2 separate regions of the Homo sapiens genome follow, and region 1 is linked to region 2. The links come from fine-mapping of genetic effects on gene expression. A gene starts in region 2. The other region holds a variant in brackets. All regions are shown on one strand. Distances are from middle to middle. Region 1 overlaps MKNK1 (MAPK interacting serine/threonine kinase 1). Region 2 holds the start of MKNK1 (MAPK interacting serine/threonine kinase 1).

Region 1 (16,020 bases), 23 kb after region 2:
GGCTTCTGCCTTGCTCGCCTGATGCCAAGCCTGTGTGCCTTCCCTGTCAGCAAGCAGCATGCTGCTTCTTCAGTTCCACTTCCACCTCCACTAATAGACACATGTGGTGGACCGCCGAGCCGTTCCCAAGAGGAAGGCAAGGGCTGGAGGCAGCGGAAGTGCTGGGAGCCTCCAGACCAGCTGGGATCTGCCTGAAACTGAAAAGAAGTGCTCACTTCTTCCTCTGTAATAACAGACACATTGCCCAATCCTATAGCAAGAACCAGGCTTCTGTTTAGAAAGTGAAGGACCTGGCTGGGCGCAGTGGTTCACGTCTGTAATCCCAGCACTTTGGGAGGCCAAGGCAGGCGGATCACCTGAGGTCAGGAGTTTGAGACCAGCCTGGCCAACATGGCGAAACCCCGTCTCTACTAAAAAGTACAAAAAATTAGCCGGACATGGTGGCATGTGCCTGTAGTCCCAGCTACTCTGGAGGCTGAGGCAGGAGAATCGCTTGAACCCGGGAGGCAGAGGTTGTACTGAGCTGCACTCCACTGCATTCCAGCTTGGGTGACAGAGCAAGACTCCATCTCAAAAAGAAAAGAAAAGATAAGAAAGTGAAGGACGTTTTGTGTCCTAGACCCTTTTTCGAAAGGGAGTTTATCCAGGAATTAGTAGAATTCCTGAACTGGATTCATAAAACTAAGTAGCCTTACTCTGCATTGTCTACAGGGCAAAGTTGTACCCATGTTTCTTTCAGGATGTGCACTGGGTACCTAAAAGGCCAGTGTGACATACCCCACACCTAACAGTATGCATGTCATTTCATATCATTTCTATTTCAGTGCAATTTCTGATGGCTGCTATGTGTCTGACACTGTGCCATGATCTGTAGGAGAAACAAGTGAACAGGGGACAATCTCAGCCTTTAGGAACACAGGGGAGCACTCAAGGCCAAATAAAATCAGTGCCCTCGTGGAGCTTCTCGCAGGGTGTTTGGGAGCAGAGGATGGAGCACCAACTACTAGTTCTGCTCAGTAACACCCTCCATTTGCATAGCACCTAACTGACTTCCAGAGTCTCTGTAGAAACCTTAACTCATCTGGAGTTATCAGGGAGCTGCAAAAGGGTTGGGACTATCGAGCCGGCTTTTGATGACCAAGAAGAATTCCTAGGCCAAGGGAAGCAGGTGAGCCAAGGTGCAGCTTTACTGCGGGGGTCCCACTCCCTGAGGCAGCATTTATCCCATGAGTGTTTGCATGATGAATTAAGGCCCCACAGACCTGCTAGTGGACTCTGTGATGAAAATAGTGTGTGGCCAGGCTCCACATGGGCAACTAGCGACCCCTTGGTGAGATTATGACACCTCTCGCTTCCCCCTGTGTAACCAGGGAAGCTAAGCATGTTTCTTTCACTTCACCCATCTTCCTACATTTTTTCCTTCCTAGTTTCAGAAACAACTCTCCAAGTTCCATTTCCAAGGAAAGTCTTAACCATTTGTCCCTTCTGGCGTACCCTCTTTCATTGAAATCCATGCAGAATATACCAGGTACTCTGTCTTTGTGTGTGTGTGAAGCCATAAAATCTAATGTTACGTGTGCGGTGGTGCTGTGAGGTATGCTTCTCGTGCAAGCGGCTCCCTCAGCCCTGCTGTGGTAAAGACCAAGTATAAATTGTCGCTAACAGGGTTTTCTCATTAGAGTCGTGTGCCTGAGTGTCCCCTGTGAATTATAATGCCTCCAGCCCTCTTGCTGCTCCTCTGCTCTGCCTGTCTTTTGGCTGTTTTGCTTGTCCTGGGGCCCTCCATCAAAGTGTGGACAGGGGAAGGAGAAAGAGCTGAAACCCAAATCTGTTTCCTCTGCACTGGGCCTGCGGTGCCGATGAGAAAATAGATGCAGACACGGGTTGCCACTGGACTGCATTCAAGGTCAGCGCAAGAGAGAGAGACAATGGTTCCTCCTTCTCAGCCTGCTGCCCCGATGGCCAGCACCCCCTCCCTGAGCTCCTGAAGATGAGTGACCCTGTGTTTTATTTCTGCTGAATTTCTCACCATGTTATACATTTGGGCAGCTTTTTTCCTTTTAATTTACCTTGGTGAGGGTGGGTGTTGAGGTGCTGATTTTTTTTTTTTTTTTTTTTTTTTTTTTTTTTTTTTTTTTTTTTTTTTTTTTTTGAGACGGAATCTTGCTCTGTCACCCAGGCTGGAGTGCAATGGCGTGATCTCGGCTCACTGCAACCTCTGCCTCCCAGGTTCAAGCGATTCTCCTGCCTCAGCCTCCCGAGTAGCTGGCACTACAGGCACCCGCCACCACACCCAGCTAATTTTTGTATTTTTAGTAGAGACAGGTTTCACCATGTTGGCCACGATGGTCTCGAACTTCTGACCTCAAGTGATCTGCCTACCTCGGCATCCCAAAGCGCTGGGATTACAGGCGTGAGCCATGGTGCCTAGCCAGATGTTTAATTCTTTCAATTCATAGGGTGTTGCAGTCCCCAGATATATCTTGTGTTTGAAGCTCTTGGCTAGAGTTATATTTTGAGATGCTCTGTGGATTTCTTTTATCTGTGTGTTTATCTGTTCCCCATTCTAAACTATAATTTAAAATGTGCTGTCATCAGATCCCCAAAATGGATGGAAGAATGCGCCTAAATTGAGCTGTCAGGCACTTGGCTGCGTAACCATGCTTTCTGGATTGTGGTGTTGAAAGTGCCATCCTGTGTGCTCTCTCCGGATGGCTGTCACGTACTTGCGTCTGAGAACAGTGTATGGACCTGCATGAGCACTAATCAGTCTTCCTAGCAGACTTGCTCTTTCTCTGGTCGTATGCCGCCAGATCCTCTGAGAAGAGAGTGGGCCTTTCCCCTCAATGGGCAAAGAACCAGCTTCCATTTTAAAAGCTCTCAGAAAAAAAAGAAAGAAAAAAAAAAAAAAACACCAACAACCAAGAGCCTGTGTTTATTGAAGGTTGGTCTAAAAGTCTCTCACATCGTATGCCCCATCAGCACTCGAGTGCCTCTATTTTAGAAGGATGTAAAGGTTTAATCACGCTGGTGGGGATTTAGACCCAGAGACTTCGGAGAAATCTTATTATTTCTAACTGCAGGCAAAGAGTATTAAAGCTCCACTCTGGATCAGGGGCATGACATGTTCTATAAGTAATTTATCTTTAACAGGGAAAGGCCCATACTAGAGTGTCTTAGAAACAGGACTGTGATTGGGCACTGGTTCACTGTTCCTCCTTTTCTCTTTCCTATCTCAGTGTCCTGCTTATTCTTTCCATCCGGACTTTTTCTGCCCAATCTGTGCAGTGTCTGAATGCCTGCCTCACAAATCCTCCTTTTAAGATTGGGAGCCAGGTGCTTGCCAATGAAAGATAATAAGGTTTTTTGCAATAAGTGACCTCATCCAGCAGCCTGGCACAGACCTGTCAACTGCCGACTTCTGAATGGGCACTACCTGCAGCCCTTCCGATGGAGGAGCTATGGGAGGAGAGGATGCCGTAGGCTCCATAGGCACTCAAGTCCGTGCTCTTGGACATGAAGTAATTTGGGGCTATTTTGAACCCCAGCCCTATTGCTACCTTCACAGAGGCTGTCTCCACTCCAGGCCATTTGTGCCCTGTGTGCATCCATAGCGATGTTGCTGAGCCTATGACTCATCTGCATGGTCCCCCACTCCCAACCCCCTTCTTGCCTAGCTCTCTCGGTTTTGCCTTTCTGATGCTGAGGCTGGAGGATGTCACAGGTGGGGTTCTGCCTATGGAGTCATTGTTCTGTTTGGGGAATATGGTTTGACCAGTGGCAGATCTAAATCCACGCGCTAATGAGCTTGGTTAAAGCAGGCTTCCGCTGGCCTCTTTTAATCTAGCCTGCCTGTCTGAGCTCCTTTCCACAGTTAATGATCTCCCATAATGGCTTTGCCTTTAGTTTTTCCTCCTAGGTCAAAACAAATCAATAGTCTTCACAGATATTTAAAAACCATCAGTGTAAACCTCCTGGGTCCTCCCCCACTACCTTTTTTTTTTCCTTCTGGGTAAATTTACAGCTTGATCAGTACAGTGATGTTTCCCTTACATCTCCTCTTATCTCCTAGAGATGGGCAGTAGCGAACCCCTTCCCATCGCAGATGGTGACAGGAGGAGGAAGAAGAAGCGGAGGGGCCGGGCCACTGACTCCTTGCCAGGAAAGTTTGAAGGTTGGTCACACAACTTCCCTATATCTGGGCCTGCAGCTTCCCAAGCATGGGAGGAGCATCCCGGGAGCCACAGGTCCGATCACAGAATGCGTCAAGTTAGAGCCAGATGGTGGTTATCTGTGTGGTAGGGAGATAAGATGGGGATGAGGGAGTTTACACAGGGCATTACAGAAAGAGAGCAGGGATGGAAAAAGCTCTCAGATGATGCACTGGCCTCCTGTGAATGGCTCAGGTACTGCTTCCTTTTCAGGGAGCAGGAAGACCCATCTATCAGTGGCATTGCCTGGGGTCTTCCTTTTTTCAGATGTGATTCTTCCCTCAGCTATTCCTGGAGGGGCTGCTGAGAGATAGAACTATATAAGAGGAAGAGAGAAACACCAAAGGCCATGGCCGCAAATGAAACTTCAGTCTCCTGTAAGCAGAGAATTTGTCTCTCAGATTGTAGCTACTTATGCTGTGTGTGTTTGACTACATTTTAAAGAATACGTGTTGTGTTCAGTAGAAACGATGTTGGGTCATCAGACATTTTTTGACACTCTCTGTGTGCGAGGCACTAGGCTCAGTGTGGGTCCTGTTATCACTGGGCATGTGATGGGGTGATTGGACACTTGTGCAAAGCACCAAGAGGATCAGTAGCTACTCCTAGGAGTAACGTGCCCCACTTCATCTGTTTTGTTTTCTTTCGTTGTGAGGTCTGAAGTAGCTTCGCCTCTTGGTCCCTCCTTCCAGCCTTCCAGACACACTAGTGAATTGGCTGTTCTGTAAAGTGGTTCCAATAACAAGCACTTTATCGGTTGGGAATATGGGACCTCCAGCCACCCACCTATCCTGATATGTGTAAAGGGCTAATGCCAATGTGTCCATTGTGAGAAGCATGTCATTTAAAACACTTACGAATAACAGTGTGCCATCTGCTCTTATAAACAACTGAAAGACCAAACCGTGATGGAACCAAGAAGGTACTTTCAGCAGGGGTTTTTTGTTTGCCTTTAACTCAAACAGCAGGGGTGTGTGTCTGTGTGTGTGTGTCTGTGTGTGTCAGGGTATGGGGATGGGGGAGAGACAAAGATCCCAAGGTATTCAAATAGTTTCCTAATCAACAGCTCTTTTGCTCTTTCAGTTAACACAAGAGAGTACTTCCTATTTTTAAGGACAGCTTGTGCAATGACAGGACTTCTCCTGACTGAGAGTGATAAAATCTAATTCATGGTTGAAATGTCTTCTGCTCAGGCTGTGGGTTTCAATGCTAGGTGCCTCAAGAGGAAAAGGCTGAAGAATGGAGGCCGAGTGGGGATGAGGTCAGGCAGCTAGTGCTGTGATGGAGATGTAGCCTCCTTTGGAAGGGGCTCAAAGAGCTGTGCTCTTTGTGAGCTTGGGCAGGTCATCTAGATGTTCCTTTAACCCAGGTCTATTACTCTGTTAGAACAACTATGACTCAGTACCCTAAAAACCTCAAGGTGTCCTTTGCATCCTACTTCTATTTCCTGTGGGTGACTTCTGGAGACTTCTCAGAAGCCTCCAATGACTTCCATGTATGGGGTATAAAATAGAACAGTGTTTTATTCTCCTTTGTATAGCCAGTGCTTACACAGAACTTGGCACATAATAGGTGCTCAGTAAATGAGTAAATGAATATTCATTCAAATCATACCACTTCTCCTCTGATGATCCTCCAGATTCTCTGACCAATTTTTTTTTTTTTTTTTTTTTTTTTTTTTTGATATGGGGTCTCACTCTGTCACCAGGCTGGAGTGCAGTGGCACGATCTTGGCTCACTACAACCTCCGCCTCTCGGGTTCAAGCGATTCTCCTGCCTCAGCCCCCGAAATAGCTGGGACTTTAGGCGCGTGCCACCACACCCAGCTAATTTTTGTATTTTTAGTAGAGACGGGGTTTCCCACATTGGCCAGGATGGTCTCGATTTCTTCACCTCTTGATCTGCCCACCTCGGCCTCCCAAAGTGCCGGGACTACAGGTGTGAGCCACCATGCCCAGCCTCTCTGAACAGATTTAACCCTTTCTTCCCCCAACTTTTTTTTTTAACTGTACTTTGTCCCTCTGTGATAGTATTTACCAATGCCTGGTTTATTCTGGGGTCACCTGTGTATGTGTCTGTCTTCCCCACTGGACTGCGACCCTTAGAGGAGAGGGATCATGCGTATATATATTTTAGAGATGGGGTCTTGCTATGTTGGCCAGATTGGTTCTGAACTCCTGGCCTCAAGCAATCCTCCTGGCTTGGCCTCCCAAAGTGCTAGGATTACAGGTGTAAGCCCCTGCACCTGGCCTTTATTTTATTCCTTACTCTGTTATGCTGTCTGGCACATAGTAGATATTCAGGAAGTATGTGCCGAATTGAGACCCTTTTGCTAACCTCATCGCTAAAATGAGGAACAGGATGCCTTGTATGTGGTCTTGTTGTTGAGAAACTGG[GT/T]CCTCAGGTGGCTGGGAAAGCTACTTGTCTTCCTTGTCACTGAGTGCTAGAGTCATTGGGTGCCTGTGTCGTCTGATCAGGGAAGCTGAGCCACAAAAGTTCTTCCCATCTGAGCTTGCAGTAGGGTGACTCATCTTGTTATTCCTCTCATCCATTTCACCTCTAGATATGTACAAGCTGACCTCTGAATTGCTTGGAGAGGGAGCCTATGCCAAAGTTCAAGGTGCCGTGAGCCTACAGAATGGCAAAGAGTATGCCGTCAAAGTGAGTGTCTCAGCTGAATGCCAGGCTTTACTTTGCAAATAGTCATTCCTAGCTCATCTTGAACCAAATAAATGTTATATTCCATAAGAATGGGGACTCTGAAGCTGTATTCACTGGATTCAAATCTTGGTTTCTCTACTTACTGTGTACCTCGGGCAAGTTACTTAACTTCTCTGTCCTTCAGTTTTCTCATCTGTAAAATGGGTATAATACTAGAACCTATGTAGAATTGTTGTGAGGATTAAATAAGTTAATATAGGTAAAGTGCTTAGCACAATGCCTGGCTCATAGTAAGTTTCTCATTATTCTGACAAATGAAGTCAGCTTCAGGGAGTGGACAACCAGATTTGGAATTAGAAGGCCTACCTGAATATCTATTTTGACAAACTATAACTGTTTGACTTTGGGCAAGTCATCAAATGTCCGTAAGCCTCAGTTCCTACATCTCTAAATGATGATACCTGCCCTTCAGTCTCCTGAGGCAGTTATGAAGATGAAAATTAAAATATCCTGGGAGAGGTGGAAACACTTTACACGTCACAAAATGCTATCCAAGTGTTAGATGTTAGCATGATAGTGAGGATTAAAAACTAAGGTGACTGATTTGGTAACATCTGAATGATGTCTCAGAAAAAAAAAATTAAAAGAAGAAAACAAAACTAAAGCGACTGAGCACTCAGTTTTGGGGCAGGAGAAGTGGCTTCTGGCCTCATTGCTGCCTTTAATTAGCTGTAAGGCCTTGGAGTGGCTCATGTCACCCCTCTGTGCCTCCACTTGCCCTCTCCACATGGAAGAAGAGCTGGATCTTGAGCAGTGGTTCTCAAAATGTGTGCCCTGGACCAGCCTCAGCATCGCTTGGGAACTTGTTAGAAATAGAAGCTACCTGGCCCTACCTGAGAAGTACCAACTCAGAAACAGGGGTGGGCCCAGCAATACAAATGTTAACAAACTCTCCTGGTGACTCTGACACTCACTAATCCTTGAGGACTACTGTTGTAGGAAGGGCAGTTGTGAATGCTACTATGTGTTAGAAGCCCTTAGAGCTCTAACAAAGCACACACAGATCCAGGTTTCCAGATGTAGGATAGGGTCTGGATCTCTGTGGCTTGACCAGATTCCCCACTTGAGTCTCATAGCCACCAAAGTTTGAGGACTAACTGACCTAGAGAAAGGGTCTTTTTAAATCCAAGCTGATTTCAAATCACCCACCTGAGCCACCAGGTCAAATGCCACCTCACATTGGCAATCCCAGCCCAGTGGGCTCCTGAAGGAAATGTTTTCTCTTCTTTGAACCAACTTTCCACAGTCCCAGCTGCGGGTTAGAAGGTTGAGCAAGTCTGCTAAGCCACGTTCCTTTCAGCTGGAGTATTGCTTCACATGGTAACAAGAGCACTGTCTTAATTTCTTTTGGGAAACAGCTCAGTATAAATTACAAGTGATTTTTAAAACATACGCCTAAGTGTAAATAGAAAAATTAGGCCAGGCATGTGGCTCACACCTGTAATCCCAGCACTTTGGGAGGCTGAGGCGGGCTGATCACCTGAGGTCAGGAATTCAAGACCAGCCTGGCCAACATGGTGAAACCCATCTCTACTAAAAATACAAAAATATTAGCCGGGTGTGGTGCATTCCTGTAATCCCAGCTACCTGGGAGGCTGAGGCAGGAGAATCCCATGAACCCGGGAGGTAGAGGTTGCACAGTGAGCCGAGATCACACCACTGCACTCCAGCCTGGGCGACAGAGCAAGACTCTGTCACAAAAAGAAAAAAAAAATGTTAGCCTGGTGTGGTGGCATGTGCGTCTAATTCCAGCTACCTGGGAGGCTGAAGTGGGAGGATCACTTGAGCCCAGGAGGCAAAGGTTGCAATGAGCCAGGATGGTGCCACTGCACTCCACCCTGGACAACAGAGGGAGACTCTGTCTCAAAAAAAAAAAAAAAAAATTGATATATCTGTCTAAATGCGGTAAAAACCACAAACATAAACTGATTTTCAAAGGTTTCAATACATTTATGGATGAGAGGTATATTTCTTCAAGGTTGGATAATGGGAGGAAAACCTGGCCCTTCCTCCACATCCCCCCTGGCATCTTTGAGGCAAACACTGGACTCTGGCTTGGCAATTCCTTGGTTTCAGCAGTTCTGCCCATGTTTCTTCTCTCCCCTACTCTTTCAAAGCTCCCTAGAGATGGGCTACTTCTCCCAACATGGCCCCACAATACTTAGCTTATTACAGCTTTTCCTATAGGCACCCAGCTGATCCTAGACTCTCAAGGTTGGGATGGAATTTCAAGATAACCCTGAATTTCCTCTGACTCCCCAGATAGTTGTCCATGTTCTGCTCCCCCATCTCTAGTAGCAAGAGCCCATTACTTCCTCAGAGAAGACTGTGCTGTGGAAGGCTTGCCTGCTAGAAAGTTCTTCATGACTTTGATCTGAAATGCTTGGGGAATGAAGTTGAATCACTTCTGTTCCCCAGCACTACACCTCTCCATTCAGATAATGGGCCCACTGTGGTTTACAAACAGACACACTTATTTAGAAAATTGCAGTTGGTCACAGATGTCTGTGCCACATCATATCGGAGAAGTTTGAAGTCTCAATGAAGGAAGAGGATGTCATTGTGCTGCCCACTGTGCACGTTGGAGCTGTAAGGCAGAGCTAGGCTCTGCAGATTTGCTCACAGGCTCGGTGTGCAGTGGTTTGAGGCTCCAGATGGGTCCAGAGAGCTTTGCAGAGGCAGCCAGTCCCTTTGGAAACCACCCTCCCATCTGTTGGCTTATCTGTTCCTTCAGTCAGCATTTGACAAGCATCTCAGGTAAAAGTGTGGAGGGGGAGCAGCCCACCGTATCACAGGAGAGACAAAGCCTCCAGGTCCTCGAAGAAGTTAGAGCATCTAAGCAGGTATGGGATAGCAAGGGCTTAGGAGTCAGCTCTGGACTGCAGGCAAATGTTTCATACCTCCCTATCTTTTGATGTTGTCATAAAGGTCAACTGAGATTATGTAAATAAATTATTATTGTTTATTTATTTATTTATTTATTTATTTTTTGAGATGGAGTCTCTCTGTTACTTAGGCTGGAGTGCAATGGCACAATCTCGGCTCACTGCAACCTCCGCCTCCCCAGTTCAAGTGACTATCCTGCCTCAGCCTCCTGAGTAGCTGGGATTACAAGCACCCACTACCACGCCTGGCTAATTTTTTTGTATTTTCAGTAGAGACGGGGTTTCACCGTGTTGGCCAGGCTGGTCTAGAACTCCTGACCTCAGGTGATCCACCCACCTCAGCCTCCAGAAGTGCTGGGATTACAGGTGTGAGTCACCACACCCGGCCGTAAATAAATCATTTAACACAGTATCTGCCAGAGAGTAAGTTCTCAGAAGAGGAAGAGCCTACTTCTGCCAGGGGGATCGTGGAGGCAGCCTCTGAGCTGGGTGTCAAAGCTTTAGCTCCTCGCCACGGTGTCCTGCATCAGCCTCTCCCTCCAGCATGAGAAGATCCTTCAGTAGATGCAGTAAATGCTTACCCTTAAGGCAGAAAGAGGTGTCCACAGGAGGTGGAGCTGAGTAAGGTAGCTCTTTGTCTTGCCGGCTGCCTCAGTCTCCCCTGGGCAGCTGGGGGCAGCAGCCTCATTCACTTCCTTGGTGTTGTGCTTGGCCAGAGTGGAATGGGCTCAGCTGAGCTGGAAAGCCCTGAGGCCAGTCTGCTGCTTTGCCAACAGAGCCACAGTGCCGGTGTCACCAAGGCCTAGGCCAGACTTCTGCTGGACACTGGATTTGGACTGAGTGTGGCCTTGCATTCTCCCAGAGGACTCCTGCCAAAGGGCTGTTTGGAAGTCAGGTGGGTGTACATGACAGATTTTATTCTTCCCACAGATCATCGAGAAACAAGCAGGGCACAGTCGGAGTAGGGTGTTTCGAGAGGTGGAGACGCTGTATCAGTGTCAGGGAAACAAGTGAGTATCATGTGATTCTCGCTGCTTCTCTGGGGGGACGCTTGGCCACAGAAGAGGAGGCTATTTCTTACCATCTCCTGACTCCAGCATTTAGCTCTCACTCCTGTCCCCACAAGGCAGGTACCTCCTTCCGCCCCTTTCAGTGTTAGGGAGAGAAAGGAAAAGCAGCAGTAACAGCAAAGGAGCTATTATCTCTTCTGAAATACTGTAAATATCATCAATTCAAGCAAGTTAGAAGAATGAACTATCTGAATCAGTGGTTGTTGGGGGGAAATGGGGTTTTATTTCTTTCGGTACCTGTGGAAACTAGGTTGACTGAGTGTTGCCTGGTAGAAATCTTTAAGGACTTGCCTTAATACCAAGATGAGGAGAACTGTTAAGAATATTTGCTGCTGTTTCTGCTCCTAGAATGTTTACATATGTGCAGATACCACTAAGATCCTGGAACCTTCCAGATAGCTGGGTCCGGCTCATCTCTAGCCCCAGTTCATTCTGCCCACCACCAGCTCCAAATGAGCAGCTCTCCCACTGTGGCTTTAAATCAGGGGCACCTCTAAGACTCCACTTCCCCCTCTCTCCCTCCACGGTAGGGTCAGCAGGGAGCCAGTGGCCTGGTATTGATGGCTTTGTCATTAAGCTTGGAGGATTGGAGGACGGGGGCTGCTGTTGATTTAACTCCAGGCACTGCCTCCACAATCTTCTTTCAAATTAGGCCATTTTGCCCATCTTATTTGGATGCCTTCACACTAGTAAAAGCCTCATATCTCCCAAAGTAGTCAGCATTTTTTTTATGAGGGACAGATTTTTATTTTCAGCCCTGCAGCTTCTTAGTTCAGCATTAGAGACTCTACTTGGTTTATTTTATTTTGTAAAAGAAAAAAAGCCCACAACACCTCCAATATCCAGGCTGGTGGCTTCCCTACTGAGTTACAAGACGACCTTGTTGGCAGAGCACTGAAATACTCGGGCAGACAGAGAGTGCTCACCGGGGAAGGCCACAAGTGCTACAGTGGCCAGGAACGCGGCCGTTTCATTAAGCAGCGCTTAGCAGTTAGGGTCTAGCGGTGCCCATGTTAGGCCCCAAGTCCATTTGACAGATGTTTCCATTTTCTCCAGGCAATGTAAATACTGCCCCGTGATTTATGGGCAAGAGGGAGGGCAAGTAATTATTTGCTGCTTGCCTCCAGGACACACACCTAGTATTCAGTGTTATTAGCCGCAATTGCTTCCAGTCGGCTGCAGATTTTATTCAGTTTAATGTGACCGGGACTTTTTTATAACTCTACCTAGTGGGTTTTAGGGCTGGGGTTTGACAGCACAGACTTGGTGAAAACACCAGAGACTAAACATTATGGAAAGATAAGGTGACCTGAATCTTGCTAACACCATTGGCTGCTTCCATACGCGGGTCTTTAATAAGCATTCTGATTTCAAGTTGGTTTCTGCCCCACTACCAGGTGTTGTATATTTTTTTCATTGTATATTTGTAAGTAGACTTTAATATATAATACCATTTCCCCCCTTTTCCCTCTCCTCCTATTTTCCCTATTTAAGGAACATTTTGGAGCTGATTGAGTTCTTTGAAGATGACACAAGGTTTTACTTGGTCTTTGAGAAATTGCAAGGAGGTACTTACCGTTGAGTATGTGTGTGGACTTCTGATTAAGACCCAGGGTGGTGATCATCCATCATGAATCCCAGAGACTTCCAAAACGAGTCAAGCTAATAAAAAGGATGAAGGACTTAAAAACTGCCCTTGATTTGGGAGAAGGGAGGCCGGAGGGAAGGATGATAATTAGCATTTTGCAGAGCTTAGAATGTCACCTGTGTGGGTATTTTATAAATGCCTTTTCATTATAATAGGAGTCATATATAGATACATTTAGTCATCGATTTATCAATCCCGTTTTGACATGTTCACTGTTTAACTACATTAATTATGGGGTGGAAGCTCTCAAATACATTGCGAAGTCTAGAAAGGCTAAAACAGAGGAGAGGAGGGTCCTATTGTTTGGGACACAGACCCAGGATAAAGGGGAAGCCTGAGAATGTGCCATCCTTCAGATGGAAAGATGCCATCACCCACACACATAATCACTGGGGTGTATACTTAAGTTGCTTTTCTGACATAATGAGGTGGGGTAGAGAAACCCTTTCCCTTCCCATCACTCCCCCAATCTTAGGACACACTTGCAGGGATGTCTGGAACTGCATGGAGGGCCACACGGAGGGGCTTGGTGGTTGAGGGAGCGTGCTTTAGAAACCAACACAGCTAAAGCTTATGTTATGTCTAGCTGCATCACTTACTAGCCATGTGATCTTGGGCAAGTCACTTAACCTTTTCTAAACAATATTCCCTTCTATAAAATAGAGATATTGATAGCACCTACCTCACTGGGTTGCTGTGAAGATTAAATGAGATAATTCATGTGAAATGCTTAGGACAGTGTCTGGTAGGCACTAAGGGCCCAATAAATGTTGGCTGCTAATATTATTAAAACAATTTGGTATGCTGGGGGATGTCTTAGAAGTATGTAGAGTAGACCAGGTACAGTGGCTCACGCCTATAATCCCAGCACTTTGGGATGCCAAGGTGGGCAGATCACTTGAGGTCAGGAGTTCAAGACCAGCCTGGCCAACATGGTGAAACCCGGCTCTACTAAAAATACAAAAATTAGCTGGGTGTGCTGGCACATGCCTGTAATCCCAGCTACTCAGGAGGCTGAGGCAGAAGAATCGCTTGAACCTGGGAGGCAGAGGTTGCAGTGAGCCGAGATCGCACCACTACACTCCAGCCTGGGCAACAGAGTGAGACTCTGTCTCAAAAAAAAAAAAAAAAAAGTATGTAAAGCATTATTCTCTGCTTTTCCTTTTAACAGATTTGGAAACGAGGCTCACTACAGCAGAGCAAGCTAGGACCTAGTCATGAGCCGGTTTTCTGGGAATGTTCCCTAGCACATTGGGATCCGTTGTTTAATCTGGCAAGCGAACAATCTTTGGCAGTTCTTCCCCTTCTCTCATGCCCTCCCCATCCCCCCTAAAAAACAGTAGACATGTGCCATTTTTAGGACAGAGAGATAATACCTTCAGCCCAGAAATGCTGGCTTCTAGTAGTAAACATAAACCACATGAAGCCAAGCCACATGTTCCTGCCTGTGTCTGCCCCTGCACCACCCAATAACACATGACTGACTGTTAATTACATGTTTGAAATGCTACATGCAGATGGGATCCTCTGTCGCCATATCAGTAAACTTAATGTAGCTTATTGAGGCCAGACCCAGTGTGGTTGGCTCAAGAGAGTCCATCCCTGCAGCAGTCAGACCACAAGTCCTGCTGGGGGATGTCTGCACAGACTCGGAGGCCTGACTGACGCCCTGGGCCTAAGTCCTGGCCTCACCCCTTACTGGTGCGTAATCTTGGGCAAGTTGCTCAACCATTTTTCTTTTTGGCTTCAGGATCTCCCTCTGTAAAACGAGAATAAGTGTACTACCCATTTTGTCCAATTGTGGTGAGAATAAGACAGTTTATTTCAAGAGTATTCCATAGCACATGGCACTAGTAACTACTCAGTAAATGTTAGCCATTGCCAACAAAACAATAATGAATGGGAAAGCTCAGGCGGAAAACCCATTTTTCCCCCCTTTTCCCAGGCCTTTACATGTCTGGCAAGGGTGTGGCATTTCCATTTGAAAGTTTGTGCTCTTGTTTGGATCAGAGATCAGATGCAGGGGAGAAAACGTTGCTGCAGAAAGGCCCCCTCAGCTCCAAGTGCCTTCAGTTTTATTCCTTTTGATTGCAGAAGCCAAATCAGCCTCAGCATCATTAGTGTTTTTTGGCCCTATTTATAGTTGTTCTCTCTCGCTTCTGAGCTCCTCATAGACAGGTACAGAAGAGAGTAGTCCAGTTTTGTTTAACAGACATACAAGCTGGTACCTCCTCCGTACCAGGCCCCACACTTGGAGCTGGACAGGTAGTGATGAGTCAGCGATGAATCCCTATGTCCCCACCCCAAGTTTTCCAAACTTGGGAAAACTTGGCCTCTAAGAAGTTATACGGCCAGGCGCAGTGGCTCACGCCTGTAATCCCAACAGTTTGGGAGGCTGAGGCAGGCGGATCACTTGGTCGGGAGTTCGAGACCAGCCTGACCAACATGGTGAAACCCCATCTCTACTAAAAAAAAAAAGTACAAAAATTAGCTGGACATGGTGGTGCCTGCCTGTAATCCCAGCTACTCAGGAGGCTGAGACAGGAGAATCGCTTGAACCCGGAGGCGGAGGTTGCAGTGAGCCGAGATCGTGCCACTACTCTCCAGCCTGGGTAACAGAGTGAGACTTCGTCTAAAAAAAAAACTTATACTTACTAGAGCCCAAAAAGGCATTCTTCTATGTCCCCTCTGCTCCCCAGGTTCCATCTTAGCCCACATCCAGAAGCAAAAGCACTTCAATGAGCGAGAAGCCAGCCGAGTGGTGCGGGACGTTGCTGCTGCCCTTGACTTCCTGCATACCAAAGGTGAACCCAGCCTTTGCCTTGGTGGGTGGGTTGGGCTGGCCAGCCTCTGGGTACCAAGGGAGGTGGTAGGCCAGGCAGAGGGCTGGTGCAGGAGATGGTGTGGCTGGAAGGCAGCTTGAGGTGTGAACATGCTCACCCATGGGAGTTGAGGGAGAAACAGTCCAGGATGGCTCCTAGGCTTATGCTGCGGATGGTGGGTGGGTGGTGAAGCTGTTGAGCAGCACAGGGATACAGGAGAAAGAGCAGGGAGGAGAAAGAATAAATTTCACATTGAACAGGGTATGTGTGACTGTGTGTGGATGATGTTTCTTTTCTTAGATTCTTATCGTGTGAGGAATATAAAGCTCATACACAATACAACCTTCTTAGTGTGAATATCTTGATGTTATTCCTTCTAGTCTTAAAATATACATCACCTCTGTCTCTTTTCAAAATTGGCATGATAGGATATATGTAGTTTAATATATCTTGTTCACAGTAAATGAAAAATCTATTTTTCTTTTTCCTTTTTTTTCCTTTTTAGACAAAGTCTCTCTCTGTCACCTAGGCTGGAGTGCTATGGCGCCATCAGGGCTCACTGCAGCCCCAACCTCCCTGGGCTCCAGTGATCCTCCCACCTCAGCCTCCCAAGTAGCTGGGACTACAGGTGTGTGCCACCACCTGGAAATTTTTGTATTTTTT
Region 2 (16,020 bases):
AGGTAATGGGAAAATGTGGAAGATGATGTATATTCCAGCAGGGGAGAGCCACAGTCAGATTTGTGCTTCATTAGAAAGAAAAGTATGGCCAGGCACAGTGGCTCATGCCTGTAATCCCAGCATTTAGGAGGACGAGGCAGGTGGATCACCTGAGGTCAGGAGTTCAAGACCAGCCTGACCAACATGGAGAAACCCTGTCTCTACTAAAAATACAAAATTAGCTGGGCATGATGGCACATGTCTGTAATCCCAGCTACTTGGGAGGCTGAGGCAGGAGAATACCTTGAACCTGGGAGGTGGAGGTTGCAGTGAGCCGAGATCATGCCATTGCACTTGCCTGGGCAAGAGTGAAACTCCGTCTCAAAAAGGAAAGAAAAAAAGAAAGGAAGAAAGAAAGAAAAGTATGGGAGAAAGTCAAACCACTCTCTGTTTTCCAAAGGGAAGTGTACTAAAAAGTGTGCTGGGGAAAAAGCCATCCTGGTTGCCTGTGTGTGGGAGGGAAAAGTTGAGCAGAGCTTTGGCACCAGGATACTGATCCCCTTCTGCCCTCCCCTGCCCTCTAGGAGTTCCCTTCCCTAAGAACTTCCAGCAGGTCTGCACCAAGATCCTGACCCGCCTCTTCCGAGTCTTTGTCCATGTCTACATCCACCACTTCGATAGCATCCTCAGCATGGGGGCAGAGGCGCACGTCAACACCTGCTACAAGCACTTCTACTACTTCATCCGCGAGTTCAGTCTGGTGGACCAGCGGGAGCTGGAGCCACTGGTGAGGCCAAGCCCTACCACCCTCCCCTACCAAGGCTAGCCTCTGAGTTTTCACGTCCAAAAGCTGCCTGCTTTAAGTAACTCCAACGCCCAAGTAGATGAATTAGGGGAAGGCAATTCATTTAACAGTGAATTCTGTACTTCAATAGAGAATTCATTCAAGTGTTGGTTTACAAACCCAGATCTGCAGCCTAAGAGTTGGGGTTGCTGGGGGAAGGCCAGGCTCAGACAGAAGAGCAGCTAGGCCCTATGGTTTGGGAAGGGATTGCCTAGTAGGCTGAGCTCTAATTGACCCCTCCCTACCTTGTGTCTCTACAGAGGGAGATGACAGAGCGGATCTGCCACTGAGCCCAGGTCTGGACTTTTTTGGCCATCAGATGGACGATCTGAACATAGGGTGGCTGGCAGAGGGGACCCCCAGGAGCCTGAAGGAATCTGAAGGCACTGGAATCACTCCACACACCCAAAGCCTCTGGACTTCTGGTTCTCAGGAGTCTGCCTACCTGTCGCCCTGACCGCTTGTGGATGGAGAAGGGGAGAGCATCTAGGCAGGCAAACAGAAGGGAAGTGGAGTTAAACCTCTGGCATGAAGTCTGGGAGTAGGGTAGGCTAGGGGGTTTCTTCTATGACACTTGACCCTTCCATGCTGGTTCCCAAGCCTATTGGAGGAATGTGGGTGTGGCCGAGGTGATGGCAAGAAAGGTGCAAGAAAGTGAGCAGTCTGCCTGTGAGTGAGCACAGATGCCGGGGTGTGTGTGTGTGTGTGTGATTTTCACTGTGGGGTGTGTCTGTGAGAGCTAGCTGCCTTACCCCTCCTTGGCACATAGTAGGCCTTCCATAAATGTTGGATGGATGGATAAATAGATTGGGACCATCAGACCATGGGACCATCAGACCATGACCACTGTAGGAGTGATGACAGCTCAGCGTCCCCACTCAGTGTATCTGACCATGTGTGTAAGTGCACAAAAATGTGGTTGTAGATGTTGCTCTACATTCAAACCTTCCAGGCTACACTCTTCCATCAGCATGAGTCCTGGAGAGCTGGGGGAACGTAGGAAGAGGAGCCTTGCCTTGAGTTCCTAAACCGACCCACTGCAGACACAGGCTCTGATTCTCTTACCCAGAGATGCCCATGAGCTGACATTTTACTCATCCCTCTGCCTCCAAGAAGGCCTGTATTATACGTGTCCTCCTGGGGGTTGGAGATGATCCCTCAAGTACACAAAGGTCCCCTGGCCCTTCATCTGGGAATCATATACTCCACTCTAGCTCCCAGAATCTACAGACCTGGCTCCTCGGATCTGAAGCCCAGCACAAAATAATCTCCCCGTCCAAGGAGCTTGTGGAACTTGAATTGGGAACTTTGGAGTCTTGTCTCCCATCCCAGCACATTGAGGATGTAGTTGGTGAATGGACTCTTCCAGGCATGGAGATCCTCCATCCTAAAAGTACCTGCCTCCTTCCCAGCCATCCCTGACACATTCCAGCCAGTTGGATCTCACAGCACAGCTATCCACAGGGAGACTGGGATGTTCACGCAGCACTCCATTACTCAGTACCTCCATACCCAGCCCTATACGCAGACCCACAGGTGGGGAAACTGAGGCAGGAACAGGGTTCTGCCCTCCCAGAGCCTCCACTCTGGGATGCCAGAATGGAAAGCCAGAGGGAACCTGAGAATCATCCAGTCTTACTGTCTCAATGTACATACGGGGAAACTGAAGCCAGGAGAAGAAGAGGGAGAAACTGTCCAGGGCCTCACAGGGAGGCATTCATGGAGCTGGAGAAACCAGGGATCCTGACCGCAGGGCCCATCAATTGCTACATAGAGATACACATGGAAAGAGGGTTTAACAGACCCTCTCTAGGACACAACTGTTTCTGCTTTGAGCAATAATTTCTAACCTGAGGCCAACATGTCCCACTGCCCCTTGGGTTGGCTGGGGTTGTTTCCTGAGCCAAGCATCCAATATCATGCCCCACTCAATGGCCTAGAAGCTGCCTGTACTTTGGGGAAACAGATGGAGCTCTTGGGCCCAGCCAGCTGGGCCTGGGACTTCTGCCTCTGCCGCCTCCAGAGTGGCCTGGCAGCTTTGCCAGAGGCTGTGGAGCGAGGGTAGTAGGAGCTTTTCCCAGAGTGCTGTGACTTGCATGATGGATTCTAGGCTGTGGCAAGGGCTGATTTCTGGGATAGGGGGAGGGTTGGAAAATTTATTTTTATGAAACAGAGGGAAGACTTTATTGTTGTTATTTTTGGTAAAATAAAAGGCAAACTAAAGCAGCCACTGGTGGGAAGCGGTGATCTGGGTGCCACATGGCTCTTGGCAGACCATGGAAGGAACTGAGCCAGAATGGGGCTGGGAAGGCTTTTTGTCCTGAGATACTGGACCATGTGGAGGGCTGGCTGGTGTGGTCATGTCTGGCCCAGCTCTCTAGGGTGGGGACACAAAGATTCTCCTGGGGCTCTGGAAATTCTAGACCGAGCTAGGCTAGGACGCTTGGGGTGGAGAAGCCTGGCTTTTCTTTGCCTTCCGGGAACTCAGTCTGATAGGAATCGTTCCTTGTTTCATCTCAGGTTGCCTGGCATTGGCTATTCTTTTTTTTCTTTTTCTTTTTTTTTTTTTTTTTGAGATGGAGTCTTGCTCTGTCACCCAGGTTGGAGTGCAGTGGCGCGATCTTGGCTCACTGCAAGCTCCGCCTCCTGGGTTCATGCCATTCTCCTGCCTCAGCCTCCGGAGTAGCTGGGACTACAGGCACCCACCACCACGCCCAGCTAATTTTTTTGTATTTTTAGTAGAAACGGGGTTTCACCGCGTTAGCCAGGATGGTCTCGATCTCCTGACCTCGTGATCTACCCGCCTCGGCCTCCCAAAGTGCTGGGATTACAGGCATGAGCCACCACGCCTGGCCTGGCATTGGCTATTCTCACTCCAGCCCCTTACTCTGGGTGGTTTTTTTTTGAGGTAGTAGATAAAAGGACAGAGTGGAAATACAATCCCAACACTAATTACAGGACAGGAGGCCATCCTGAAGAGGAAGATACTTGTTGCTGGCTGGAGCTACGGTGGGGGTGGCAGGACATGGGCCTGACTCCTGAGCTTACTCCCCAGTAGACATCTGCATCTATTGGCTCAGGTCTTGCTGTCATTCCACTGCCCCAACTCACAAGCTGCCTGGGCAGGAATTAAAAAGCAGCTTGGTTCTTAAGAGTCAACAAAGGCCCATCTAGAGCTCTTCCCTCTTCCTGCAAAGGAGCCAGCCTGGCTTTGTGCAGAGGCTCTCCTGGGAGGCAAAGGCATAGGTTGTAGCCCCAGCCCAGCTCCTGAAGTTCCATTGCAAGCCCATTCCCCCTCTAGACCCCAACCCTTCATCTATTTTGTTATCAGTGATGGGAGTGAAGGACTGATTGATCTCAGCTCCTTCATTATATAGTCTATGAATCATTCACAGTCATCATAACAGCTAATGTTCATTATGTGTCAGGTACACTTCTAAGTGCTTGACATATAATAGCTTGTTGAATCAAGTGTGTCTTTGGCCAGCTGCCTTGCTTCCCTTCCAGCCCCCAATATCCCTGCCTTTAGTCACTCCTCTAGAATCTGGAAGGCCCTCCATTCTGCTGCCTCTTCCTCTGGCTCACCACAGGAGGCCCAATCCCAGCATTCTAAAAGGGTGCTATTTGCACACCTCCTATAACAGATCGCTCACTACCTCCTCTGTCATTGGACAGCTCAGACTGTTACAAGTCCCATGCTTTGGGTTCATGGTCATTTTGAAATATGACCATGGCAGTGAGAGTAGATTTATCTTAGAACTGTGTGACCCAAGACCTGCACCTTACATGAGAATATCTGTAAATACATTAGGAAGCTGACACAAAATTGCTTTGAGAGATTCACAGAGGGATGCTTAAAGAAGAATAGACAGAAAGGAAGAGAAGGGGAAAAGAAAGAGATAGGGCCTCAATGATGCAGATAAAAGAGCACACTCCCATGGGGCAAAACCTAGTAACAAAGGGTCCTGGGAGGTAGAGTGGCAGCTTGGTTGAGAAGTCAGGCTGGGCTTTATTTTCCTGTTGGCTCAAGGTCCATAACAAAGCTGGGCATAGTGGCTCTTCCCTGTAATCCCAGCACTTTGGGAGGCCAAGGTGGGAGGATCATTGAGCTCAGGAGTTCGAGACCAGCCTGGGCAACATGGCAAAACCCTGCCTCTAAAAAAATTCAAAAATTAGCCAGTCATGGTAGTGCATGCCTGTAATCCCAGCTACTCAGGAGGCTGAAGCAGGAGGATCACTTGAGCCCAAGCAGAGGTTGCAGTGAGCAAAGCTGGTGCCACTGCACTCCAGCCTGGGGAACACAGTGAGACCTTGTCTCAGAAAAAAAAAAAGAAAAAAAATTCCAAAACAATATTTGGAGCAGGGACCTAGGTAGTAAGCCATCCTCTCCAGCCTGGGGCAGAGCATCCACCTATTGAGTAAAGGATGCCGCATCACCCTCGGCTCCCATAAACACTGCAGCCTCTGAGGTTTCCTGTTGCCTCTCCTCCCTACCCCACAGCAAGCTGTGGAATATGTGGTGAAATAAGCCACAGTCATGACTAGAGCTCCACCTGCTTTGGGGGAGCCCTCCTTCCTCTGAGCACCCCCAGAGCCCTCAAAGATGTTAACTGAATTTGATTGCCATGTGAGGGACATAGCAACTTTGAGAACCTGGAACATAGGTCCTGAATCTCTTGGGCTATTGCCACAGGCAACAGGGAAGGGAACAGGCCAGCAGGGCCTCTGAAGACTTGAAGCTTGGATCGGCCTCCACGGAAGGTAATGAGTGGGAGAAGTCAGGATACATCGGGGCCCTCAGGTTGGACCGCAGGATTCCAGAAGGGAATGAACACAGAAGCTTGATCTTCCGCCTCTCCGGCCTTCACCCAGATTGGGAAATCTAGCAAAGTCCTGAATGTTCACTAATATTCCCAATCTCCTTCCATCATACAGATGAAAAGACAGCCCCGACAAGACAGGGAACAAATGTTTGTCAGGTGGATGATGGGAAGCAAGTCCCTGGGGCTCTTTAACTAGCTTGGCTTACCAAATCCTCACGATAATCCTGAGACAGGCAGGGAAGGGATGTTCACCTCCATCACTCGGAGTCAGCGCCTGAATTAAATCCCAGTCCACACTCTCATCCTTTCTCATCGCAGCTGCAGACTTGGGAAGGGGATGTGGGGAGACTGGTTGAGGCATTAACCTATTTACAGTTGTTTTTCCCCAAGAAATGAACTTTTAAAAGTTTTAAAAATTTTGAAATACTGGGGATAATGTTGTACTCAAGGAGAAACTCTTATGGTGAAATTCTAGGCACTCAGACTTTTAAAGAAATTGTACAGAATTGGCCCCCGTTTTAGAAAAGACTAGCAGCATTTCCCCACATATAAAAGGCATTTTAAAATTCCTTCCTGGCCTGCAGAAGCTCTCAGTACATGTTAATTACACCTGTCGCGCCCGGCCTCCTACCTTCCCGGGCTTCTCCACCCTCCATTCGGAAAAGAAAGCGCCGGAGGAGCTAAGCCCCACCCGCTTGCCAGCAATCTCCCCTCTCCCCGCCTCTTCCCTGTCACGCCTGCGCAGTTCGCTCAGCTCGAGCCCCCTGCCCTCAGGCGGCCCTGGGTAGCCATCAGGGCGCAGGCGCAGCTCCGCCCCCTCACCCTCCTCTCTGATCGGGCCCACCCCCTGGATCTAGCACCGCCTCTTCCGCGTTCTCGGAGGAGCGATCTGCAGGTAGGGGTGCGCGCGACCGCTCCCCGGCGGGAGCCAGCGAAGGTAAAAGCGAGACCTGCGAGGTATTCCTCCGAGCTAAATGGGGCCGGGGTCTGTGAGTGAGCTCGTGTGCCCGGAAGGGGGCAGTCAGGGCCTTCACGGCTGCCCGAGGTCACGACGCGATTCAGCTGCGGAGGGACAGCCTAAGGGGACGCTTTTCAGGACTGTCCCGAGCTGTCTGCGACCTCTGTGCCTGGGGTCGGGGCGTGGCCGGTGTCCGAGATGGCGCTTACTCTGTGGCCCGTTTGAGACTCAGTCTCTCCCAGGGATCAGGACCGAGGCTATGGCTGGGCGCAGGGCTCAGGCAGTCCAGTATCATGAATAGTTTTTCACGTGAGGAATTTGTGAAATCTGTGTACTGCGTTATTTTTAAGTTAATTGTTTTCATTTATTTTCAGTATTTAAAGGCTCCTGCCTGTGTGGATGGCTGTCCACAGGGAAAGGTAATAAGAGTGTCAGGTGCACCCTGTCTTCTAGAGAGCTCCAAGCTCCCTGACAGTGGCAGATCAGAGGCAGGCAGGCTCACAGGAATGAAGTGTTGTTAGAAGTGCTCAACTTCAGGGTCAGGGAGTCCTGGGTTTAGATCTCATCTCTTCCACCTCTTAGCTGTGTGTCCTGGGGCAAGTCTGCTTCCCCTCCCAGAGCTTCACTTTCTTCCCTAGGAAATGGCCATAATAGGGTCATTGTGAAGGGTGAATAGGATTATATGGAAGTCACCTAGTATGGCGCCTGTCATGTAATGGGTGCTGAATACATGGTAGCTGTGATTTCTAGGAGCTTGGTCATTTTGGATTGGGGTACTTTAGAAAGGCTCTGAGAGAAGAGTTGTTGTGACCTGGGCCTTGAAGCCTCAGTGGGATTTACAGATGGAACTGACCCTGCAGAATGGGAAGGGCACCACTGCCCATGCGCCAGGCACATGCTGGACAGTAGGTGTAATGTCTCACTGGATCACCACCCATCAGCCAGGTGCTTTCAGCCCACTCTCCTTAGCTTCAGCCCTTCATTAGAGGGCTGGGCTGGAAGTGATGTGAAGAGGAAATCCAGGGTTGGGTTTTATATGGAACTGAGCCAGCTAGAGGCTTTGGTGCCCCCTCTGCCCATCTGCTCCCACCTCAACACTTCTCTCTCTGTAATCCAGAGAGTTGGTTAGGAGTCCTGTTACTCTGGTATTTTGCAGATGTTGACAGTTGTGGGGGATGGCAACTCAGATTGCATGAAGCGAAGCCATGGGAGAGGGAAGCTCTGTGAACAGGAGCTGTCAGAGCCCAGCACGTGCTTAGAAAGTGCATGTGGTCTCCTGTAATGTGGTCCCAGAGTAATTGAATTACTTAGTTCCTTTTGCATCCTCTTCATGGGTGCCCTTGTGCTCTTCCTGAGACACTACTCGGAAACCTTGGTGGGCATCATTGCCTACTATATAGAGCAGTGGTGTCCAATCTTTTGGCTTCCCTGGGCCACATTGGAAGAAGAAGAACCATCTTGGGCCACACATAAAATACACTAACATTAACAATAGCTGATGAGCTTTAAAAAAATTGCAAAAAAATCTCAGTGTTTTAAGAACGTTTATGAATTTGTGTTGGACCACATTCAGAGCCATCCAGGGCCGCGGGTTGGACAAGCTGGATGTAGAGTTTGGACTCCAGCCTCAGACAAGTTCCTGCACAATTTGTTCCCACACCTCTCCCCTCCCTGTTTCCCTTGGTTTTCCCAAACCTGCAACCTGTGCTTCAGTCAAAATAAACTAGTTGTCTCTGTTTCTCCTTTTTTTTTGAGATGGAGTCTCACTTTGTCACCCAGGCTGGAGTGCAGTGGCACAATCTCGGCTCACTGCAACCTCCACTTCCCAGGTTCAAGTGATTCTCCTGCCTCAGCCTCCTGAGTAGCTGGAATTACAGGCATGAGCCACCACACCCGGCTAATTTTTGTATTTTTAGTAGAGACGGGGTTTCGCCATGTTGGCCAGGCTGGATTCAAACTTCTGACCTCAGGTGATCCGCCTGCCTGGGCCTCCCAAAGTGCTGGTACTACAGATGTGAGCCAACGTGCCCGGCCAAATCTCTGTTTCTCAAACACTCCCTGCATGTTCCTGCTCGAGCCTTTGCTTATATTCTCTCTTCCTGGATTTCCCTCCTCCTCCTCATCTTTCAAGGCTTACATCTCTTACATCTCATGTGGCCTCCATGGTGAAGCTTTTCTGAGCCTTCTGCTGGATTAGTTGTTCCCCTTTCCATCTTCTGTAGCAAAGGCTGACCCTCTAATATAGCTCTCATCATAGTCTGCCTAGGGATATGTACACTCCATATGTACTCTGAGTACGTGGGTGGCAAGGGACCATGTCTCTTTCCTTCCTCCTCTGTCCAGCATAGGGCCAGCACATAGTAGGCCTCTTCAGTGTTTGTGGTTAAGTGAGTCAGTGACATTTTTTATTTACTAGGTTTGGCCCTTGTTTTATGAGCTGTCAGGTTCAGAATGGGACTTTGTGTTTTTCCTCCTCTTTGTGCCTAAGGAGGGCCCCAGTTTAGACTGATGCCCTAATTACAGGCATCAAAAACAAGAAAGTACAAGAATTCTGCACAAGCAGGCATTCTTCATTGCAGCCATTGTTTTCAGGCTCTTGTCTTGCCTTGACCGTGAGTTTTGTTGGAAGGTAGGTAATGCTGTGTTCAGAGACCTGCACTGGGTGTATTAATAGTACAGTTCAAACAGGGGAAAGCTCACAGGTGGTTTTCTAATCAGTTTACTCTGCCCTTGGCCTTGGGAAACAGTGGTTCCTCCCATCTGGGGACCAGCAGCTATAAATGCACATTTTCCCTTGCCAACAGCCTCAGCATGTGGAAGAGAAAGTTATTTCTTGATCAGAGAAAAATTTACATGGTTGAAGGTAGAAGGAGCTTGGAAACCAACCATCTGGTTCCGCCACTTTCATTTTATAGATGGGGAAAGGACTTGATTGAGATTACACAAGGAGGCCGGTGTGTGGCTCACGCCTGTAATCCCAGCACTTTGGGAGGCCGAGGCAGGTGGATCACCTGAGGTCAGAAGTTCGAGACCAGCCTGACCAACATGGTGAAACCCCATCTCTACTAAAAATACAAAAATTAGCTGTGCATGGTGGTGGGTGCCTGTAATCCCAACTATTTGGGAGGCTGAGGCAGGAGAATCGCTTGAACCCAGAAGGCAGAGGTTGCAGTGAGCTGAAATTGTGCCATTGCACTCCAGCCTGGGCGACAGAGTGAGACTCTGTCTCAAAAAAAAAAAAAGATTACACAAGGAATCAGTCAGTAGTGGAGATAGTTCTAGAAGTGAAATGTCATGACTCTGTTTTTTCAGTCTACTACGTTGTTAATACAACATCGAACATTTATTGCACACTTGCTGTGTTCCAGACACTGTTTTTAAAAGTGTTTTTAACTCTGTGTTATAGCTTGGAAACTAAGGCAGATCATTCAGATCTATTTTCCAATTCCACAACTCTGGGTTTTAGTGTGGTTTTAATGGCAGTCACCTCCTACCCAGTGGGGTGGAACAGTTCTCCAAAGAGCTTGCTCCCAGATCTCCGTGAGTGAGAAGTGTTGTCCCAGCAATGTCTCCTTATATGCTGGAGAGAGATCCCAAGAAGAGTCCAGAGTGTATTGGAAGAATGGATGAAGGAATGAAACAAGCCCACATGAGTATTAGCGGATCTTAGTTTAGGAATATTCATGTACTTCAAAAATTGCCTATTTATCAAGTTAGGCAGTAAATGCAGTTTTAGAATGAACTCAGTCTGGGATCTTTCTGTAAAGATTCCCAGTATAGGATGGAAAGATTCAATTCGGTAAGCACATATTGAGCTCTTGCTATGTACAAGACCCTGGTATTGAGAAATATACACAGAGGAAAACAACACATTTCCTGCCCTCCTATAAATAATTGTCTTCTCAGAACCTTCTCCCTCCAGTGTAGTTGGGAAGATAGATAAGTACATAAATAACTGAAATCAGACTGACTATGGTAAATGTAGTAAGGAATGTAAACAAAGTGGGAGTTTGGAAGAAGGAGAAATCAATCCCAGCATGACCAGAGGATTCCTGAAGGTGGAGAATTTATGCTGGGCCTTGGAGGGAGTTTATTCCTGGGAGAAGGAACAGCTTGAGCAACAGTTGAGAGGCAGAAATGCTCAGGTGTAGGGGTGTGTGTGTGTGTGTTGTGGGAGGGGAGAGGAGTTGGTGAGGAGAAGAAGTAAGCCGAATTGGCAGATTTTGGCTAAAATGTAGAGAGTGGAGTAGGGAGCAGAACACTAGCATTTATAAAGTGTCTCCTTTGCTTTGTGGCTTGCAGTATGCTGGTTGCTTTACATACTATATTTAATCCTGTAATATAGGCCTATTTATCTCCAATCTAAAGATGAGGAAACCAGACCTCAGAAAGATTAAAGTGACTTCCCCAAGGTTAGATAGATAGTAAGGGCACAGCTTGGTTCAAAACTAGCAGTGCTGAGTTCAAAGGCCCATGTTATCTTCCTTATGCTAGAGGCTCCAAATGCCCTGACTGGCGCTCGGTTTTCTCTGGCAGCAGGACGGAGGTTAGACTGGAGCAAAGATGGTCCCAGAATGGGGACATCAGTGAAGAGGCTTAAACGGTGAATCACTGGCCTAGTTTGGAAGCTGCATGGACTAGGTCTGCTTGATAGGTTTAATAGGTGATCATTTTGGCAGCACCCACAGTGCCATAAATCAGTGCATTGCCATCCTTAGCTAGTAGAATCTTAGAACCAGTTTACAGAAGCTGCAGGACCCTGGTATTTCAGGCATGGGTTCTGATGGGAGATTGACGTTACAAAAGGGTCTGTCGGGGGAGGCAGCCTGTTTGGCACATCCTGTCTCTTCATTTTCTCACCCTCAAATTCAACAAGAGTCTGTAAGTAGGACAGAGCACTAACTTGGAGTGCAGAGGCTGGCATTCAAGTCCTGCACCTGCTCATTATCATCTGAGAGTCCTCAGTCTGTTTCTTTCCTTTGTATTTGCTGTCAGATTATTCCCTCCTGCAGCCAGTTATGGTTCACAGAGTCGTTGGGTTGCTTTCCAGAGCCACAGCTGATCTGGGGAAGCCATATCAGAAGCGGGAATAACAGTTACTAGTTATTGGGTGCCTACTGTATGCCAGGCACTGATGCCATGAGCTCCATATACATTAGCTCACTTAATTCTCATGACAACTCTGTGATGTGGGTGTAATTGCCCCCATTTTATAGATGCTGATAATCAGAGGAGTATTTTGGTTCACTTCTGAGGCCTCAACTCTTGCTAATGTCCTGGCTTGGGACTGTATGAGGAAGAACTGAGAATATAAACAGGATTCAGAGAGACTAGAGTTTATATTCCAGCCTCTCATCCTTACAGAGAGACAGTAGTTAGGTATGTGGACTCTAGAGTCAGGCTATCTGGGTTTGAGTCCTGGCTCTGTCACTTGCTACCTGTGTGACTTGGGCAAGTTATTTAATCTTCCTGAGTTTCTGTTCCTTCATCTGTAAAATGAGAATACAAATATTACTTACCTCATGGGGTTGTTATGAGAATTGAGATACAACAGCACAGTGCCTGGCACACAGTAGGTGCTCAATGAATGTGAGCTTTAATAGTAATAATATTAATAAATATATGAATGCCCAGTTTGGTACTGTTTTTATAGAAAGTATATTTATTAGGGCCATTTTCCCTTCCCCCGCATTGTTACCTTCTCTTTCTTTCCATTGCCCTGTCAGGAACCTTTGAGATACTAGATTGTTCCAGCACATGGTTGCAATGCATAACATGGCAGAAAGTGCCTGTAGGAAATGGGTCAATAAAAATCAGTGGCTCGTTAGAAAATCTTACCTGACTTGTGTTTTCACCTCTCTCCACAGTAAACAGGAACAGAGCAGCACATATATTACTTTTTTCACAGCCTTCAACAAGAGTGCCAAGCAAGACTCCTCCAATTCACTTGCCAAAAGTACAATAACAGTATCTCTGGAAAAGTGGTGCCTAATTTGGTTCTTCTTTCTGTCCAGCTTAAACCCTTCAGGCCTTAACTTAAGCCATTTCTTCTTGTTCCATTTTCCATGAATATGGAAAAGTTTCTTCTGATTTTAAAGGGAGGATGAGATCAAGATTTTCTCATGAGAACCTTTTCTGTACTTAAAGCCAGAATCCAGTTAAACCTCATCTTCTCTTCTCCCGGCTAAACAGCCTTGGTCTCTTTAACCTCACTCTTAAAACCTGTTTTCCATTGCTTGGATCACATTGGTCATGCCTCTTTTCTTTCTCTTCGGTTTTTCTGCTTTGTGGCAGTGACCCAGACTGTACTCGGTCTTCTAATAAGAGTCCAGCTAAAACAGCTTAAGGGAAGAATAACTTCAGCTGTTTCCATCCATTCATTAACAATTATGAAGTGGTTGCCCCATACCAGAGCCTCTGCTAGGTGTAGGGGTCCCAGAGATGAAGGAGACATAGTCTCTACCCTGTCCCTGGCTAACAGTCTAGGGGAAGATGCGTAATAAAATGTTACAGGTAATTTAATTATGCACAAGTGTAGGAAGCTGGGAATTGGTTAGAGCAATCAGGTGGAAATACAGTCCCTTTTGACGAGACTGCAGGTTAAGACTCCCATAGAGGGTTGGTCTGGGACAAGTTGATGGAGGCCGTGAGTGACAGCACAGAAGCTTGGTTACTCCAGAGGCAGTGGACACCCATTAGAAGTTTTAGAGCAAGGAAGTAACAGGTCGAGATCTGGCTTTTTGGACCAAGGGTAGAGATGCCATAAACCTTAGCCTTACCTGTGCCTCACTGATGTTTTCTGTCTTGAAAGTAATGTGATGGATCTTTTGTTTGTATACATGGTGATTTTTTTTTTTTTTTTTGCTCTAAAACGTCTGTAGAAGGTCTAGTTCTTAAGCACTGAAGAAATTTAATTCCCAGTACAGCAAGAAATTCATGAACAATTGAGAGAGAATTGGGTGCCTCGCCAGGCCCAGCCTACTTAAGACCCAGCTGCAGGCCGATGGATCTGTGTAGGTTTGGTCTGGCCATGGTCACCCTTCCCCACCCCAGCCCTATACCAGCAGGAGGTACAGGAATGAGGAGAGGGCTCCAGGGTCCATCTGGGTAGTTGGTAAAGAATGCTAAGAATCTTTAAGAACTGTGAGAGTCAGAAGTAATTTTTGAGGAGGAAAAAGGGACCAGAGGAATTTTAAATGGTGCCAGAAGGAATTAGGGCTAACCAGGCACTTAGAATCCTGTGACATGTATCTGAAAACCTCCACATTCTCTCTCTGCCTTTGTATTTGCTGTCAGTTTATTCCCTCCTGCGGCCAACTGTGGTTCACAGATTGGCTGGGTTGCTTTCCAGAGCTGCAGTTGATCTGGAGAAGCCATGTCAGAAGCTGGAATAAGAGTTACTATTGAGTGCCTACTGTATGCCAGATACTGGTGCCACGAGCTCTATATACATTAGCTCACTTAATTGCCATGACAACTCTGTGATCTAGGTGTTATTGCCCCATTTTATAGATGATGGTAGTAAAGCTCAGAGAGTTTGAATTTTATGTCCAAGGCTACCCGGCTGGTAGATGGTAGGGCCAGAACTGGAACCTAGGACCTAATGCCCAAAAGCCCTGTGCTTTCTACTTCCCCAGCCTAAGGTGGCTCCACGTGGCAAAATAACACAAAGCCCATAAGGAATTCTGAGGGGTTTTTTTTCTACTGTAGGCCAAGGGTTGGCAAAGTATGGCCCACAGGCCATATTTGACTCACTGCCTGTTTTAGTGTGGATGCAAACTAATGTACTTTTTACATTTTTATGTGGTTGGGGAGAAATCAAGAAAAGATCAATATTTTATGACACATGAAAATCTATGAAATTTAAATTTCAGTGTCCAAAAATAAAGTTTTATTGACATATAGCTACAATCATTGATTTACATATTGTCTACTGCTTTCTCTCTACAAATGCAAAATTGAGTCATAACAAAGATCATGTGACACACAAAGCTTAAAATATTTACCATCTGGCACTTTACAGAAAAAAAATTGCCAACTCCTACCATAGGTAACAAGAAGGGACCAGGTGGGGGTCTAAACCTATGACAAGACTAAAGACAGAATGGAAGCTCAAGGCCAGGCGTGGTGGCTCACGCCCATAATCCCAGCACTTTGGGAGGCTGAGACAGGCAAATCACGTGAGCTCAGGAGCTCAATACCAGCCTGGGCAACATGGTGAGACCCTGTGTCTACAAAAAATACAAAAATTAGGCGTGGTGGCTCGTGCCTGTAGTTTCAGCTACTTGGGAGGCTGAGGTGGGAGGATCACTTGAGCCTGGCAGGTGGAGGCTGCAGTGAGCCAAGATCATGCCACTGCACTCCAGCCTGGCTAATGGAGCCAGATCCTGTCGTTGGATGGTGTTCAAGGCTGTCCCTGGAAGTGTGGTAGTAGAAGTGAAGAAAGAGAGCATACCCTGAGTTTCCTTAGGCCCTGGAAACAGTTTTACTGGGTTTCAGATTTGTTTGGGAATAAAGAGCATAGTAGGAAGGACTGTCCAATGTGCTAACATCTTTATTGGATGTTAAAGAGATATTTCGTGTATTAAGTAATTCATTCAGATTCACTAGAGCCCATTTTTGCCAGATACTATGTTAGATGCTGGTAATGCAAAGATGAAAAAGGTAAGTGCTTGCCTTTGAGGAATAACTGGCAGGATGACGTGATCTGATAGGGAAGAAGAGAAGTCAGAGGAAGGAGGCAGTGGGTGGGGGTTGGGCACAAGTCCCACTTGGGGCATGTGGTTTGAGGTCATGGTGAAACACACCCAACTTCCAGTTAGAAAGCCTTTTTAGAAATTTTGGCTCAGAATTCAGAGTTAAACTGCATTTTCAGGGCTTTTCCACCGAGAAAAGGGGAAATGCATATTTATTTCATAGGGAAGTTGACAAAGCAACTTTGACTTGTATAGCTAGAGCCATGGTATTAAAATAACAGTGAACATAGAGAAAATGAAGTCATCAGATTGAAAACTAGCAATAATTATGTATTCGACACAAAACCTTGTTCCCATTCATGCCACCTCCTGCTCTCAGCATCTACTTTATCTTTCGGGCTCTGTTTCCTCTTGCCTGTGAGACTTGGACTTGGCCACTAAGAGAGAGAGCCCAGCTCATTTCTCTAAAAACGTGGATAGCAGAGGAGTGCCTCGCTCTGTCACCCAGGTTGGAGTGCAGTGGCATGATCTTGGGTCATTGCAGCCTCGACCTCCTGGGCTCAAGCAATCCTCCCACCTCAGCCTCCCAAGCAGCTACAGGTGTGTGCCACCATGCCTGGCTAATTTTAGTATTTTTGTAGGGATGGGTTTCACCATGTTGCCCAGGCTGGTCTTGAACTTCTGAGCTCAGTCAATCCACCTGCCTCAGCCTCCCAAAGT

What was found.
Region 1: its variant is fine-mapped to the expression of MKNK1 in whole blood (TOPMed, PIP above 0.99).

Annotation. Positions count from the first base shown.
Region 1 is chr1:46,571,382-46,587,401 of GRCh38, reverse strand. It overlaps MKNK1 (MAPK interacting serine/threonine kinase 1), which reads left to right. Exons shown (of 13, transcript NM_001135553.4): 3 at 4,073-4,174; 4 at 6,775-6,872; 5 at 10,748-10,827; 6 at 12,382-12,455; 7 at 15,235-15,339. The coding sequence starts at 4,075. Among named protein-coding and RNA genes, the nearest start is that of MKNK1, 25 kb to the left of the region's middle. The variant GT/T (reference allele first, on the strand shown) is at 6,608.
Region 2 is chr1:46,594,748-46,610,767 of GRCh38, reverse strand. It overlaps MKNK1 (MAPK interacting serine/threonine kinase 1), which reads left to right and starts at 6,500. Exons shown (of 13, transcript NM_001135553.4): 1 at 6,500-6,583. It overlaps MOB3C (MOB kinase activator 3C), which reads left to right. Exons shown (of 4, transcript NM_201403.3): 3 at 564-766; 4 at 1,084-3,049. The coding sequence ends at 1,113. RefSeq lists a silencer at 6,319-6,538 and enhancers at 6,869-6,918, 6,686-7,186.